Linked DNA regions of Homo sapiens. The protein of the gene in region 1 interacts with the protein of each later gene in a pairwise test. Each region holds a gene or a part of one and is shown on either strand. Other genes may lie near its edges. The genes, in order: FMOD and ZBTB32.

What was found.
Region 2: the proteins of FMOD (region 1) and ZBTB32 interact in a two-hybrid assay, tested with the Homo sapiens proteins (one study listed by BioGRID).

The regions. Positions count from the first base shown.
Region 1 is NC_000001.11:203,347,741-203,355,329, forward strand, and holds the start of FMOD (fibromodulin precursor), read right to left. Parts: upstream 3,383-7,589; 5' UTR 3,293-3,382; intron 1,517-3,292; exon of another isoform or gene 1,506-1,516; intron 538-1,505; 5' UTR 531-537; coding exon 1-530. UniProt on the Homo sapiens protein: Affects the rate of fibrils formation. May have a primary role in collagen fibrillogenesis.
Region 2 is NC_000019.10:35,700,329-35,707,795, reverse strand, and holds the start of ZBTB32 (zinc finger and BTB domain-containing protein 32), read right to left. Parts: upstream 3,239-7,467; 5' UTR 3,173-3,238; intron 1-3,172. UniProt on the Homo sapiens protein: DNA-binding protein that binds to the to a 5'-TGTACAGTGT-3' core sequence. May function as a transcriptional transactivator and transcriptional repressor. Probably exerts its repressor effect by preventing GATA3 from binding to DNA.

The DNA.
Region 1 (7,589 bases):
GATCGAGGCAGGGGACCGGGCATCCGGGTCAGGTTGTTGTGGTCCAGGTACAGCCTCTCCAGGTGCCTCAGCTTGGAGAAGACCTTCCTGCCCACCTTATCACTGGTGATCTGGTTGCCGTGGAGAGCAATCCAGAGCAGCCCTGTGGCATTGTCAAAGACGCCTTCCTGGATGGAGGTGATCTGGTTGTTCTGGAAGTACACATACTTCATGCGGGAGGGAACGAAGGGCAGGTACTTGAGGTTGCGATTGTCACAGTACATGGCCGTGGGGAAGTTGGGTGGGCAGTCGCACTCCTGGGGGCAGTCGCGGGGATCTGGAGGGGATGGAGAGCCGTAGGTGTAGGCTGGCCCTTCATCCACCCCATAGGGGTAAGGCTCGTAGGTCTCATACGGGTAAGGGTCATAGGGATCGTAGTAGGTGGACTGCTGGCTGCGGAGGTAGTGGAACCACCAATGAGGGTCATCTTCATACTGGGCCTGGGAGAGGGAGAAGAGCCCTGCCAGCAGCAGGAGGGAGGTCCACTGCATTTTGTCTCTGCAAGAAGCGGGAGAGAACAGAGCAAGCCAGCATGAGTGAGACTCCACAGAGGCAGTGAGGCAGAGTAGGCAAGCCTTAGGCTTTGAGCTATGCAGAGCTGACTTCCATGTCAAACATCTGAGAGCAGGAGCCTTGCTCTCATTTCTTCGGTGCCTCCTCCCAGTCTGGTTCTGCACTTGGTCCAGCCGGACCATGGCTATTTGGGGTGAGCTAAGTGCATTTTCCCCTGGTCATAGAGTCACAGACAGAATGTCTTTGAATGGGAACAGCTGCATTTTTTTTTTGGAGGGGCAGATTCTTAGGAGCCTCTAGCACTCTGAAAGTCCTGTGGGAAAGCTGAAAAGCCCACAGCAATCCCTGTGTTTGTGGTGTGGTGGTAAGGATGGTAGTGGGATGCTCTTCAGATCTGAACCCAAATCCAGTTTGGATGTTCCGGGGAAATAGTATTTTTCTAAGAGTCCAAGGAGAAAGCCCTAGGATGGGAGACCTCCAGAAGCCGCTTGACGCATCGAAGGGGAAGAGCTGAACTACATCTGGAAAATCTTTTGGTCTCTTGGGCAGGCTGGGAGTTTTTGGTCTTGAGTGTTTGGGGAGGAGTGTGGTCCCTCTGCAGCCACCACAAGGCTCAGGTTGCCCTCCAAAGTGCCATCATCTGTAACAGTCTGCTGAGTGAGGAAACTCACTGGTTAGCAGTTTGTGGCTACACATGCAACTTGGCTGGGACAGGGTCTTCATGCAGCAGTTACAAATCCTTTCCAGACTGAGGACCCTGGCACTGGGTGTGGCACTTGCCTTCTAAAGCAGGTACTCAGTGTGTGAAGTCTGAGTTAATCTGCTTCTCTCTTCCATGGTGCCTAGTAAGGTGTTAGCACTCCTCATGCTCCACCATGGGCATCATGCAAGAGCCATGTGGGGCCAAGAGAAATGAATGAGGGACACCAAAAGAATAGCTAGAGATTGGAAACTCTTGTGTATGCTCAAGGGAAAGCAGCTTGAGGTAGGACCCTGACATTCTCCTCTCCTTTCCCAAGCTACCTGCTCCCAGCGATGACACCTAGATGACCAGGCTCTGTGTCTAGGTCCCCACATTGCTGGAAACCTGTTGCTTTTGAACCTGTTGTGCTAATGAGATAGGAACAGGGCAGACTGAAGAGGAAATGTGGGTCTGATGTCATCTGAGAGGGAAACTAAAGGTATGGAAGGTAAGAGACTAGGGGTGGCCTGGGTACCCTACCCTGGTTACCTATAGCCAATGCATGACATACTCCTGTGAGCAGTGGGCATCTTCCTGAGTGTCACCCTTGGACAGAGAAACCTTAGAATCTTTCTTGGCCTGGAAGAGTCACATACAGCCCTCACATTGCTGTTGGGCCTACTGGGGTTGGCAACTGTAAACAGAAGAAAGAAAGGAGTATAAAAGCCAACATCATCAGATCCAGTGAACTGATGGGAAAGACCCCAACTATGACACTCAACAGAGTTACCTCCTGACCACCATCCATCCCAGACCTCTCTGTCCCCTCAAAACAGTTTCCTTGGGCCCACTTCATCCCATCAGTTCCTAGGTTGCAGAGGAGCAGGCACCCTGGCTCATCCACAGGCAGCCTCAGGCCTCAGACAAAGAGCCACAGTGTTTTGGAGAAGCTGACCCAACTGCCCACTGCCTGGGCAAGCTGGCTGGTTCCTGGCTCTGGCCAGGAGAGAAGACGAATGGAGCGGCCCACTGCCAACAGAGCATTTTTCCATGCACAGCCCTGGGCTGTTGCAGGACCAAGGTGGCTGTCTGGAGGGCTGGCACAGTGAGCCTCTGTCTCCGTTTCTCCTTCTTTCAGACTGGGCACCTTGGCAGACAAGAGCCACCTTCCCCTTCAGACTCAGCTTTCTAGGGGCTGTGCACCCTGCCCACTTCAGCCTCTTCTTAGAGCCATGGGTGCTGAAAGGGTTTGATGGGGAGCTTATGCCTCTCCTTACCCCATCCCATCTCTTAGCAATGTTGCTTCAGGGTTGCATAGTCTTACACTGTTTCCCATAATGCTAGAGGCCCTCCTGTGCTCAGAGTTTCTGTAAGGTCGAAAGTTTCCAGGACTGCCACACTATCAGCTGGGGGAAGTTTACTCAGGAGCTACTGCTGTTCTTTCATTTCTCCACTCTAGAGAAAGATCTCTCCCTCCTATCAGTGGAGAAGGTCAAGCCAGAGGCCATCCCCTCACCTGGATTGCATCCCCACCCCAATCCACAGCTCCCTGGACATGGCCAGTTCTCAATGCTTCTTTTTATTCTCTCCTTTCCACTCCAAACACACACACACACACACACACACACACATTCTACACAAAAGTTTCCCCCTCTCCCATAATAGCATTTATGTACCAAACCCCTCTATAAGAGAGATTGCAGGGACATCCAGGTCTTGGAATACCCTTCAAAATGCCCACACTCCCAGCATGATGGGATTTATGAGTAGCAGGGAAGAAGCTTCCCTAGACAGAGGGTCCTTCACTTTTTCATGCCTGAGAATTGGAGGTCCCCTCAGCACCCATAAAGGAACTGTAAGAGAAAGGTACAGGGCTGGAACCCCTCCCTTATACACCCTCTCTGCCACTCTCCAGCATCCCTGGGGTCATGGCCCAGATGTGGAGAAGGAGGAATGAACCCTCCCTGCCTCCCCATCTCCCCTATCCCCTACCACTTTTCCTTTATTTCTTTTAAGGAACTGCTAGGGACAAACCCGAAGTAAAACGACTATACTTACCTCAAGTTGAACTTTTCAGAGAGTGACCACGTCCCTCTGTCTGGCCTCCTTGGGTTGGAGAACGTGTGAGAGAGGAAGAGAGAGAGGAGTGAAAGAGTCTACTGAGAGTGTGCGTGCCTGTGCCAGACCAGGGTCCCGCCCCAAATTCCTAATCAAATATTGTGAAAAGGGGCTGAGGAACCCGGATCCTGGTTTTTTTCAGCTCTGCTGCAGGGGCGGAGTTCACGCTCAACCACGCAAATCCTTCGGTCCGCCTGACGCTATAAAAACCACCTTTTTTCCACTCACTTATCTTCCCTGAAACATTGGCAGCCCTGGGTCCCTTTCTGCTGAATGAGTTAGTGGCGCCCTAGAAGTTATTTGTACAGTCTCTTATGAAGCGCCTGGATTTCTCATTAAAGCCACAAAGGCAGATGCAGGGATGGGGAGGGCCAGGGTTTGGTAAGAGACATCTTAACTCCTTCAGCAACCCACATGTCCCTCCAGAGAGCGAGAACTCGCGCTTCTCAGCTCCCCCTATAGACAGGTCATCAGGCTAGTGGATAAGGGAGCATGAATGACAAGGGACAGCCGGCTCTGGTTCCAGTTCTATCCCTAAGCAGTGTAGACTTTTCTAGGCTACAGGTCCTGCCCACCTCCACCACTGGAACAAAAGGAAAGGCAGGGACTCCAGCATTTGCTGATCACTGCTTATGCACTAGCATCATCCACTTCCACTTAATGCTCACAACAAATTCAGAGTTAATAACACTTACCTTGCTGGGTTGTAGCAAGGACTGTATCAGGTGATGTGTGGGAGGCTCCTGACCTGGCACATAGCTGAGGTTCACTGTGTCCTACCCATTTCACAGCCATAGAATTCCTCAGCCAGGGAAAGACAAGATCAGAAAGCTGGGCAGGAGCTGTACCATGAAAGGACTTTTGGGCGATGGAAGTGATTTGGTTTTTATTCTAAATGTTTTTGTTGTTGTTGTTGTTGTTTGTTTGTTTGAGAAGGAGTCTCAGCTGGGCGTGGTGGCTCATGCCTGTAATCCCAGCACTTTGGGAGGCCGAGGCAGGAGGATCATGAGGTCAGGAGATCGAAAAGGAGTCTCGCTGTGTCGCCCAGGCTGGAGTGCAGTGGCACAATCTCTGCTTTCTGCAACCTCCGCCTCCCAGGTTCAAGCCGTTCTCCTGCCTCAGCCTCCTGGGTAGCTGGGACTACAGGCACACGCCACCACGCCCAGCTAATTTTTTGTATTTTTAGTAGAGACAGGGTTTCATCATATTGGTCAGGCTGGTCTTGAACTCCTAAACACAGGTGATCCACCCACCTCAGTGCCCCAAAGTGCTGGGATTACAGGCGTGCGTCATCCGGTCCGGCCTATTCTAAATGTTTAAAAAAAAAAACATGTTTCAAGCAGGAGAAGCCATGGGATCTGATTTGCATGGGATCTAATTTACATTTTAAAAGCATGTAGGAGGGGCTGCTGTATGGAGAAGGGGAGGCCAGGGTGGAAGCAGGGAGGCTCCAACCCAGCCTCAAGGAGAGGTAATGGCAGATTGGACTGGTGCAATGGAAGAGAAGATCTTATATTTTAGACAGAGAACTGACAAGTCTTGCAGAGTTAGGAAAAGTCAAGGATGATTCCTAGAATTTTAGTTTGAGCAACTGGGTAGGTGGTGGTAACATTTCTTGACATGGGAAAGGTGACGTGGGACTGAGTTGGGTAGAAAACCAAAGTTACATTTTGGATATGCTGTTAGAGATGCCTGCTAGGCATTCCCCTGGAGATGCACGTAGACCGTTGGACATATGAATCTGAATCTGGAGTTTAGGGGCTGGAAGAAAACATTTGAGAACCATTATAATGTGGGTCACACAGAATCTCAATAGCTTAGATAAACTCATGTGTCCTAAATGTTCTCTCCTCAAGTATGTTAACTGGCTTATGCCAACATCAAAGAAACACCTTTATCTTAAAAAAATACCAACTGAGAAACCCTGAGATGACTTGAATTTGAAGAATTTAGAAGTGTCGAGGCAGATGGTCCTTTTGGTTTCTCCAATAGGTTTGAGCTTTTGACTTAGCGTGTGGGCTGTCAGAAAGGGCCTTGTCAGGGACCCATTCTCAGAATTTAAGAAGAGATTTCAAAAAGATGAAACCTAATGAATGAGCCTTTTCTGACCACCTACTATAGACTAGGTGGTTTACTTATGTTATCAAAGATAACAGTAGATATTTTGCATTGGAATTAGTGTTTTTTTTTCAAAGCTACTTTTAATACTTTGGGGTGAGCCCCACAGGAATAAAAAAACACTGGGAAGGGGTAACCTCCCACCCGCCACTTCCAGGAGGGGCCAGGGGGAGAGAGGCTACGTGAGGGGAAGGAAGCACAAAAGGGACCCGCTGCAGACTCAGGGCAAAAGGAGGCCATGGGTGCGGGGACCTGCGGGCACTGCAGGAGGAAACGTGAGGGTGGTGGGACTGGCTCCAGTCACATAGGCGAAGGGCAGGAGGGTTGGACATGAAGCCACAAAGCTACTCGGGTTCCTCCTTCTTCTCTTTTGCCTTCTTCTGCTCCTGCTGCTTGGTCTCTGAGCTCCTCTGCTTGCCGCAGCAGCAGAAAGCCCGTCATCTCGACGTTTTCCCTTAACTGAGTCACTCTGCTTTTTCCTATTTTTCTAGCCAGTAAGCTCATGCTGGTTACTGCGGGTCATGGTGACAGCAGTGGCTCCGACCTGCCTCTGTTATGTCACCTCATTCTGTCAGGATTTTTTTTTTTTTATTTTTGACCCTGCTTTCAGCCAAGGAATTAGGGTTTTAGTGATATAAAGTGACTAGCTGGTAAGTGGCAAAACAAGGATCTGAACCTTGGTCTACATGACTTGAAAGCCCACACACTTTTCTCTAACTCTAGCACAGAGGATTGGCAAAGTGGAGGGGCAATGACTACCCTGCTGTCAGGCTGGCCTCGACTAAGATGAAGCTTAATTAATTACGATTGACCAATCTGCCTGAATCTGGGGGCAGGGGGGTTTTAAAGTGAGATGGGGCTGGGGTATAGGGGTTCTCTTCCTCATCCCACCCATATTTCATTTCCGTTTAATAAATTTGAGCATCTACTATGTGTTGGGCATGATCCTAAGTGTTGGAGACACAAAGAAGGCTTCGGTATAATGCCTGATTATAATAAAGCAGATCTGAATGTAGCAAACTCTGACCTCATGAGTGAAGCAGAATGGCCTTACTGTGAAAATGCTTATGAATAATGCACAGATAACTTTCTAGTCATTTTTGAGTCCAGAAAGCAGTCACCTTTCAGTGGAGGACACTGATCTTGGCAACCGAGCCTGGGAAACACTTTTAAATGAGCCTAGATAGCCTGGACAGATTCACCATTGGGTACAGATGTTTATTTTTTTAAATTCCAGCATGCTGACTAATTCTGCATTTACTAACAATGAAAGTTACTAAAGTCTGGGAACCAAATAGTGACTGGATTCTTCCCAACCGGGCACCACCAAAAAGACAGTATCTCCATGGGGTTTTTTGGCCATTTCTAAAGTGGTGAGATGTGCACCAGGTCTTTAGCTATCCATCCTGTTCCAAGGCAGGCCTGGGATGAAGGAAGGATGGAAGGGATGATTGGGACCAGGTCAGAAGGCAGAGTTTCAGGGAACCACCCACTGTTCAAAAGTTCTTTTCTCTAACCTTTAGTGGAGGTTTCTACCTCCATTTTGGCCACTGCTGCTTTGTTTGCCTGGTTCCTGGATCTAGGCCCTCAGAGCTTGCCTTCAACATGGGAAGCCAAGAATGAGATATTGATGTCCACCAGATTGCTTGCTGAGGGAGTCCACATGTGAAGGAGGACACCAGTATCTTCTAGGGGGTGTCTAGCCAGCACTATGCAGTCACTAGACTGAAAATAAACTAAAGAGAAAGGCAATGTCATGCATTTCTGTAGCCCCTGTCCCAGCTGGGCACACAATGCGTTGGCACTTAGTAGGCAATCAGTAAAGGGTTATGAAAGGAATTGTATTTTTGGCTCCCCACAGAGTATGTCTGTCTTCAGTACTCAATGCTGGGTGGAAAAACCACCACCAACCAGGCCAGGAAAACCTTTAGACTTTCCAGGGGTTCAGGCCACTGCTATTTCCTCCCTACCCAGAAAAGTACAGGTTAAGCCACAATCACTAGGCAAAGCTCATTGCCTCTGATGCTGGACCCACCCTGTCTGGGAGAAATGAAGTCCCTTCTGACTCAAGTTCCCACCAGCAAAGACACAGTGACGTTCTTGTGGCCACCAACCCTTT
Region 2 (7,467 bases), on another chromosome or scaffold:
TGGCCAGGCTGGTCTCAAACTTCTGACCTCAAGTGATCCACCCGCCTCAGCCTCCCAGAGTGCAGGGATTACAAGTGTGAGCCACCCAGCCTGGGACCAATTGTTGACATTAGAAAATGGTAGACACAGGCCGGGTGCGGTGGCTCACGCCTGTAATCCCAGCACTTTGGGAGGCCGAGGTGGGCGGATCACAAGGTGAAGAGATAGAGACCGTCCTGGCCAACATGGTGAAATGCCGTCTCTACTAAAAATACAAAAATTAGCTGGGCGTGGTGGCACGTGCCTGTAATCCCAGCTACTTGGGAGGCTGAGGCAGGAGAATTGCTTAAACCCGGGAGGCGGAGGTTGCAGTGAGCCAAGATCACACCACTGCACTCCAGCCTGGTAACAGAGCTAAGACTCCATCTCGAAAAAAAAAAAAAAAAAGAAAATGGTAGACACTTATACCACTTGGCATATGAATGCATGACAAGAGATTGACAGATTACTCTGAGCCTCATGGCTGGAGAGGTTAACTATCGTCTAGCTTATTCTTTACCCTCCCCTCCTCATAATATACATGCATACCATTAATTGTTCTTTTTTTTTTTTTTTTTTTTTAGAGACACAGTCTTGCTCTGTCACCCAGCCTGGAGTGCAGTGGCACAATCATGGCTCACTGCAGTCTTGACATCCTGGGCTCAAGTCATCCCCCTATCTCAGCCTCCTGAGTAGCTGGGATTACAGGCATGTGCCATCATGCTTGGTGGCTGTCTGCCGAGCTGGGATTAACTGCACACTTCATGTGCCAGCACCCCGGGCCCCCACCACACCATAGAGGGAATGGCCAATTGAGCTGCCCCAATATTAACTGGTTTCGGGGTTAGACTTCCTTGAAGTCCACTCATAAGCCACTCCTTGCACCCTCACCCCTGGTTAAAGAACTCTGGGTGTACTGAAGGCACTCCGAAAGCATAAATACCACTGAACAGCTGAATGAAACTAGGTATCAACACCCTGCCCCATGAGTATAAAAAAGATCATCAGTAAAGACAACCTGGGTGATTTCCTTTATGTTATTTACTTATTTATTTTTGAGACAGAGTTTTGCCCTTGTTGCCCAGGCTGGAGTGCAGTGGCGCGATCTCGGCTCACTGCAACCTCTGCCTCCTGGGTTCAAGTGATTCTCCTACCTCAGGCTCCTAAGTAGCTGGGATTACAGGCATCTACCATGCCCGGCTAATTTTTTGCATTTTTAGTAGAGATGGGGTTTCACCACGTTGGCCAGGCTGGTCTTGAACTCCTGACCTCAGGTGATCCACCTGCCTCGGCCTCCCAAAGTGCTAGGATTACAGGTGTGAGCCACCACGCCCTGCCAAAAACCTGGGTGATTTCCTAAAGAGGAGAATATCTCACACACCTCTTCCTGTGCTCCACTACGATGTTCATCCTCCCCATGCACCTGCCCCGCACCTACAGCCTGATATCTTCATCTTCTAGGAATTATCAGAACAGGCATGGGAAAGAGTGGGACAGGGAGAATGAAAAGCTCCAGACATGACCCAATTCCAGTTTTTTTTTTTTTTTTGAGATGGAGTTTCGCTCTTGTTGCCCAGGCTGGAGTGCAATGGCACGATCTCGGCTCACCGCAACCTCCGCCTCCCAGGTACAAGCGATTCTCCTGCCTCAGCCTCCCTAGTAGCTGGGATTACAGGCATGTGCCACCACGCCCAGCTAATTTTGTATTTTTAGTAGAGATGGGGTTTCTCCATGTTGGTCATGCTGGTCTCAAACTTCTGACCTCAGGTAATCCGCCCGCCTTGGCCTCTCAAAGTGCTGGGATTATAGATGTGAGCCCCCACGCCTGGCCCTGCTTTTTTTTTTTTTTAATTAATTTTTTTTTTTTGAGACAGAGCATTGCTCTGTTGCCCAGGCTGGAGTGCAGTGGTGCGATCTCTGCTCACTGCAACCTCCGCCTCGTGGGTTCAAGGGATTCTCCTGCCTCAGACTCCTGAGTAGCTGGGATTACAGGCACCTGCCACCACACCTGGCTAATTTTTGTATTTTTAGTAGAGACAGGGTTTCACCATGTTGGTCAGGCTGGTCTCGAGCTCCTGACCTGGTGATCCACCCACCTCAGCCTCCCAAAGTGCTGGGATTACAGGTGTGAGCCACCACGCCTGGCCACCCAATCCCAGTTCTGTACAGAGCCACCACAAGGCAATAATACTTCATCCAGCGCAAACAGCTCGGCTGGGATTCAGAATCCTTCTCCCTAGAATCTCCAGAGGATTACTGGCCTAACCTCTTGGCCACATCATCCAACCTGGACTCCATACTGGGAAATCTGCCAAGAACATCTCAACCTGGAGTCCAGAACATTCACTCCCAGCCCAGGCTGGCTCCAAAGACCCCAGGAAACCTTCATGTGCACACTAGTTTCATCTCTTGGCCAGTGACTTCCTACATAACTTTTTTTTTCTTTTCATTTTTTTTCTTGAGACAGGGTCTCATTCTGTCGCCCAGGCTGGAGTGCAATGGCGTGATCTCAGCTCACTGCAACGTTCATCTCCTGAGTTCAATGAGTTCAAGCGATTCTCCTGCCTCAGCTTTCTGAGTAGCTGGGATTACGGACGTGTGCCACCACGCCCAGGTAATTTTTTTTAGAAACCCCGTAGAGACAGGGTTTCTCCATGTTGGCCAGGCTGGTCTCAAACTCCTGACCTCAAATGATCCACCTGCCTCAGCCTCCCAAAGTGCTGGGATTACAGGCGTGAGCCACCGCGCCCAGCCCCTGCATAACCTTTGGAGATCCACAGGCCTCTCCTTTCAGTCACCGGATCCAGGCTCAGTCCAGAGACCCTTGATAAGCTCTCATTGTCCGGAGGCCATACCTCATGCAGAGTTAAGGACCTCCAACTTCCCCACAACACCCTTCCTACTCAGGCTGGCCTCGGGGGCCGTGGACCAACTCAGAGAGCAAGCTGGCTTAGCCTCTGCCAAACCTAGGCCTAAAGGTGGCCAGGAGGCTGCATTTCCAGCCTCTCAAAGGCAGAGGAAAGCCCCAAGGGCTAAAGCCCTCAACCCGCACTTCCCAATCATCAACGAGGTCCAGTCAAGCCCCCATACCCCAGATTTGCCTGGGCCGGGCCCAAGCCCAAGAAAGTAAAGTAAGAAAAACTATGGCACTCACCGGCCCAGACCCTGTTCCTCCTTCCCTTTCAGCCTCACATACACCCAGGACGGCTTAAGGCCGAGTGACCGTTAAAAGTGGGGAATGGAGCGAGGCCAGGGACGCAACGCTCCCGCACGTGGTCACCCCTGGATCCTGAGGCGGACGCTGATTGGCTGCAGCGCGGGCCGCATTCTCCCGCTCAGGCCAGCTGAGCACGCTGGGCAGCCTGGGAGGCACCTAGGACAGCGCCACTCCCGCGCGTCTGCCTCGGACCCGCAGCTGATTGGCTGTGAAGGGGCAGAGCCTTGAGTCTCATTGGTCCATAGGCTTCAGGCCTCTTAGGCTGAGATTTCATTGATTTCCAGCCGGGCCCCAGCGTTGATCTGCTGTGGAGTCTGCCTTTTCCCACTCTCTCCACGAAGAGACTGGACCCTGATTCTCCTTCACCTGAACAGCCCTGGAGGCTCCCTCAGCAAGTGCTCAGGAGTACTACTGTCCTTTTTTTTTTTTTTTTTTTTGAGACAGAGTCTCGCTCTGTCGCCCAGGCTGGAGTGCAGTGGCGCGATCTCTGCTCACTGCAAGCTCCGACTCCCGGGCTCACACCATTCTCCTGCCTTAGCCTCCCAAGTAGCTGGGACTACAGGCGCCCGCCATCACGCCCGGCTAATTTTTTGTACATTTAGTAGAGATGGGGTTTCACCATGTTAGCCAGGATGGTCTCGATCTCCTGACCTCGTGATCCACTCGCCTCGGCCTCCCAAAGTGCTGGGATTACAGGCGTGAGCCACCACGCCCGGCTTTTTAAAAAATTATTATTTCATTTTTATTTTATGAACGGGGTCTCCCTCTGTTGCCGGTGCTGGGGTGCAATGGTGCAATCATAGCTCACTGCAGCCTCGAACTCCTGGGCTCAAGCAATCCTTCCACCTGGGCCTCCCAAAATTCTGGAACTACAGCCGTGAGACACCGTGCCTGACCTGCCTTTCTTGCTTCTATTTTGCCACCCTAAGTAGCTCCCATTTGCAAACCCTGTCACCTTTCTCTCAACCCTTTACCATCTGTGAGGTGTGTAGGGGGTGTGTAGGCTGCCGCCACACCTGATTGGCTGGGAGGCCCGTAAGAGCAAGCCAAGGCCAGGCACGGTGGCTCATGCCCGTAATCCCAGGGCTTTGAGAGGTCCAGGTGGTAGTAGGATCGCTTGAGCCCAGGAGGTCGAGGCTGCAGTGAGCTATGATCACACCACTGCACTGCAGCCTGGGCGACACAGTGAGGCCCTGTCTCTAATAAATAAATAAAAATAAAATAAAAGAGCCAGCCAGGCAGGGCACGGTGGCTCACGCCTGAAAACCCAGCACTTTGGGAGGCCGAGGAGGGCGGATCACCTGGGGTCAGGAGTTCGAGATCAGCATGACCAACATGGTGAAACCCCGTCTCTACTAAAAATACAAAAATTAGCTGAGCGTGGTGGCGGGCGCCTGTAATTCCAGCTACTCGGCAGGCTGAGGCAGGGGAATCGCTTGAACCCCGGGAGGCGGAGATTGCAGGGAGCCTATATCGCGCCACTGCACTCCAGCCTGGGAGACAGAGCGAGACGGCGTCTCAAAAAAAAAAAGAGCCAGCCAGGCTTCGGTGCCTGTGAACAGCTCCCTTTTCTCTCTTGTCCCACTCCACCACGATTGCTGGCACAGCTCACTCTGCCTCGCCTGGAAGCCTGGAAGTGTACAGGGACAGGAAAGACACAAGAGGGGGGCAGTGCCTTGCCCCGTGATTGGCAGCGTGACACTTGCACTTCCAATTCCCACTGCCACCTCGACTGTATGCTCAGCCAGGAGTAACTGCGCGCGGACGTGTCAGCACTCCCACCTCCAACCATACCGCAGAGGGAACGGCCGATTGCGCTGCCCCAACATTAACTGGCCCGGGGGTTAGACTCCCTCCAGCAGGGTTTCCCCCTGGGCAGGGCTTCGGGGCTAACAAGCTGCGAGCTCGCCCCTCGCCAGTCTCCCGAGGTGCTTGTCTGCGGGGCTTCTGGCCCGGCCCCCGCGGCGGTTGCACCGCTGATTGGCTGGCTCCGCTCCTTTCTAAGTGGCTTAGCCTGGGATTCGTTCTCAAGCATAGCCAATGAGACGCCAGGGCGCCTCAAGCAGGCGGGCATGACTCCACCGCTGTCGCTTCTGATTGGCCCTAAGGCTCGTCTTCGCTTTAGATTGACCAGAGAGCAGCGGGGCGGGAGCTTAGTTGAGCAGTTTCAGGCTGCGATGCGAGTTCGGTACCTTCCCGCTGCGCGGAGTGTTGTTGTGCGCGTCCTTCGCAGCCGCTCGCTGAGGAGCTGGAGTGGGGAGGAATGGGGGTGGTCAGGAGACAGGAGAGCACCTCGCGGAAGAGCCTGGGACAACAACCGGAGCTGTAGGTCCTGACCGAGACAGCCTGAGGCGTCCCTGGCCCCGATAGGGAGCGAAACCGCTAAAATGGGGGAAGGGGCCGGACGTGGTGGCTCACGCCTGTAATCCCAGCACTTTGGGAGGCTAAGGCGGGCAGATCACCTGAGGTCAGGAGTTCGAGACCAGCCTGACCAATATGGTGAAACCCCGTCTCTACTAAAAATACAAAAATTAGCCGGGCGTGGTGGGGGATGCCTGTAACCCCAGCTACTCGGGAGGCCCAGGCAGGTGAATTGCTTGAACCCGAGAGGCGGAAGTTACAGTGAGCGGAGATGGCGCCACTACGCTCCAGCCTGGGCGACAGAGCAAGACTCCATCTCAAAAAATAAAAATAAAAAATAAAGTAAAAAAGGGAGAAGGACTGGCACTGTGGTGGGAGTAATAGCACCTCGTGTTTACCGAGCCCTTTCCATGTGCCACGCTTGTGCATCAACTCGTTGAAACCTAAATAACCCCGTGAGGGAGGCGATTACTATGCCAGGTTAACCTCTGAGGGTCAAAGAGGTGAAGTCGTTTATTTAGGGTCCCGCAGCAGTTACGGGCATTGCTGGAACTCGAACCCTGCTGTGGTGAGAGCCCAACCTTCAAGCTACACTATGATTAAGTAGGATTGATTTTGTAGATGGGGATGGGGTCTGATCACATTGGCCCTGGTTTTGGGAAAATGGACTGACATGTACAAAAAGGTATTTTATTTATTTATTTATTTATTTATTTATTTTTGAGACAGAGTCTTGCTCTGTCGCCCAGGCTGGAGTGCAGTTGTGCGATCTCAGCTCTCTGCAATCTCCACCTCCCGGGGTTCAAGCCATCCTCCTGTCTCAGCCTCCCGAGTAGCTGGGATTACAGCCACCTGCCACCATGCCCGGCTAATTTTTGTATTTTTAGTAGAGACGGGGTTTCACCATGTTGGCCAGGCTGGTCTCGAACTCCTGACTTCAAGTGATCCTCCTGCCTCGGCCTCACATAGTGCTGGGATTACAGGCGTGAGCTACTGCACCTGGCCTAGAGAAAGGTATTTAAAAAATCAGTCTCATAATATCTTTGCTTTTTTTTTTTTTTTTGAGATAGGGTCTTGCTCTCTTGCCCAGGCTAGAGCACAGTGGCAGGATCATGGCTCACTGCAGCCTTGACCTCCTGGGGTCAAAGGATCCTCCCACATTAGCCTCCCAAGTCGCTGGGACTACAGGTGCACAACACCATGCATCACTAATTAATTAATTTATTATTTATTATTATTATTTTGTAGAGATGGTCTCACTATGTTGCTCAGGCTGGACTTAAACTCCTGGGCTCAAGGGATCCTCCTGCTTTGGACTCCCAAAGTACTGGGATTACAGGCACGAGCCACTGTGCCAGGCCCCAGACCAGTTTTAAGTGCTTTACCTACATCATCAGATTGACTCTTCATAGTAAACTCTATCGGATATTTACTGTTATTATTCTCATTTGACAGATACAAAAACTGAGGTTTGGCCTGGCACAGTGGCTCATGCCTGTAATCCCAGCACTTTGGGAGGATGAGGCGGGTGGATCCTTTGAGGCCAGGAGTTCGAGACCAGCCTGGCCAACATGGTGAAACCCTGTCTCTACTAAAAATACAAAAAAAATTAGCTGGGCATGGTGGCACATGCCTGTGATCCCAGCTACTGGGGAGGCTGAGGCAGGAGAATCACTTGAACCTGGCAGAGGTTGCAGTGAGCCGAGATCGCGCCACTGCACTCAAGCCTGGGCAACAGAGCAAGACTCCGTCTCAAACAAAACAAAACAAAAAAACAAAAACAGGTTCAGAGAAGAAACTGATTTTCCTAAGATCTCACTGGGAGTAATTGTCAGAGCTGGAATTTGAACTAGGCCTGTTGCAGTCTGACT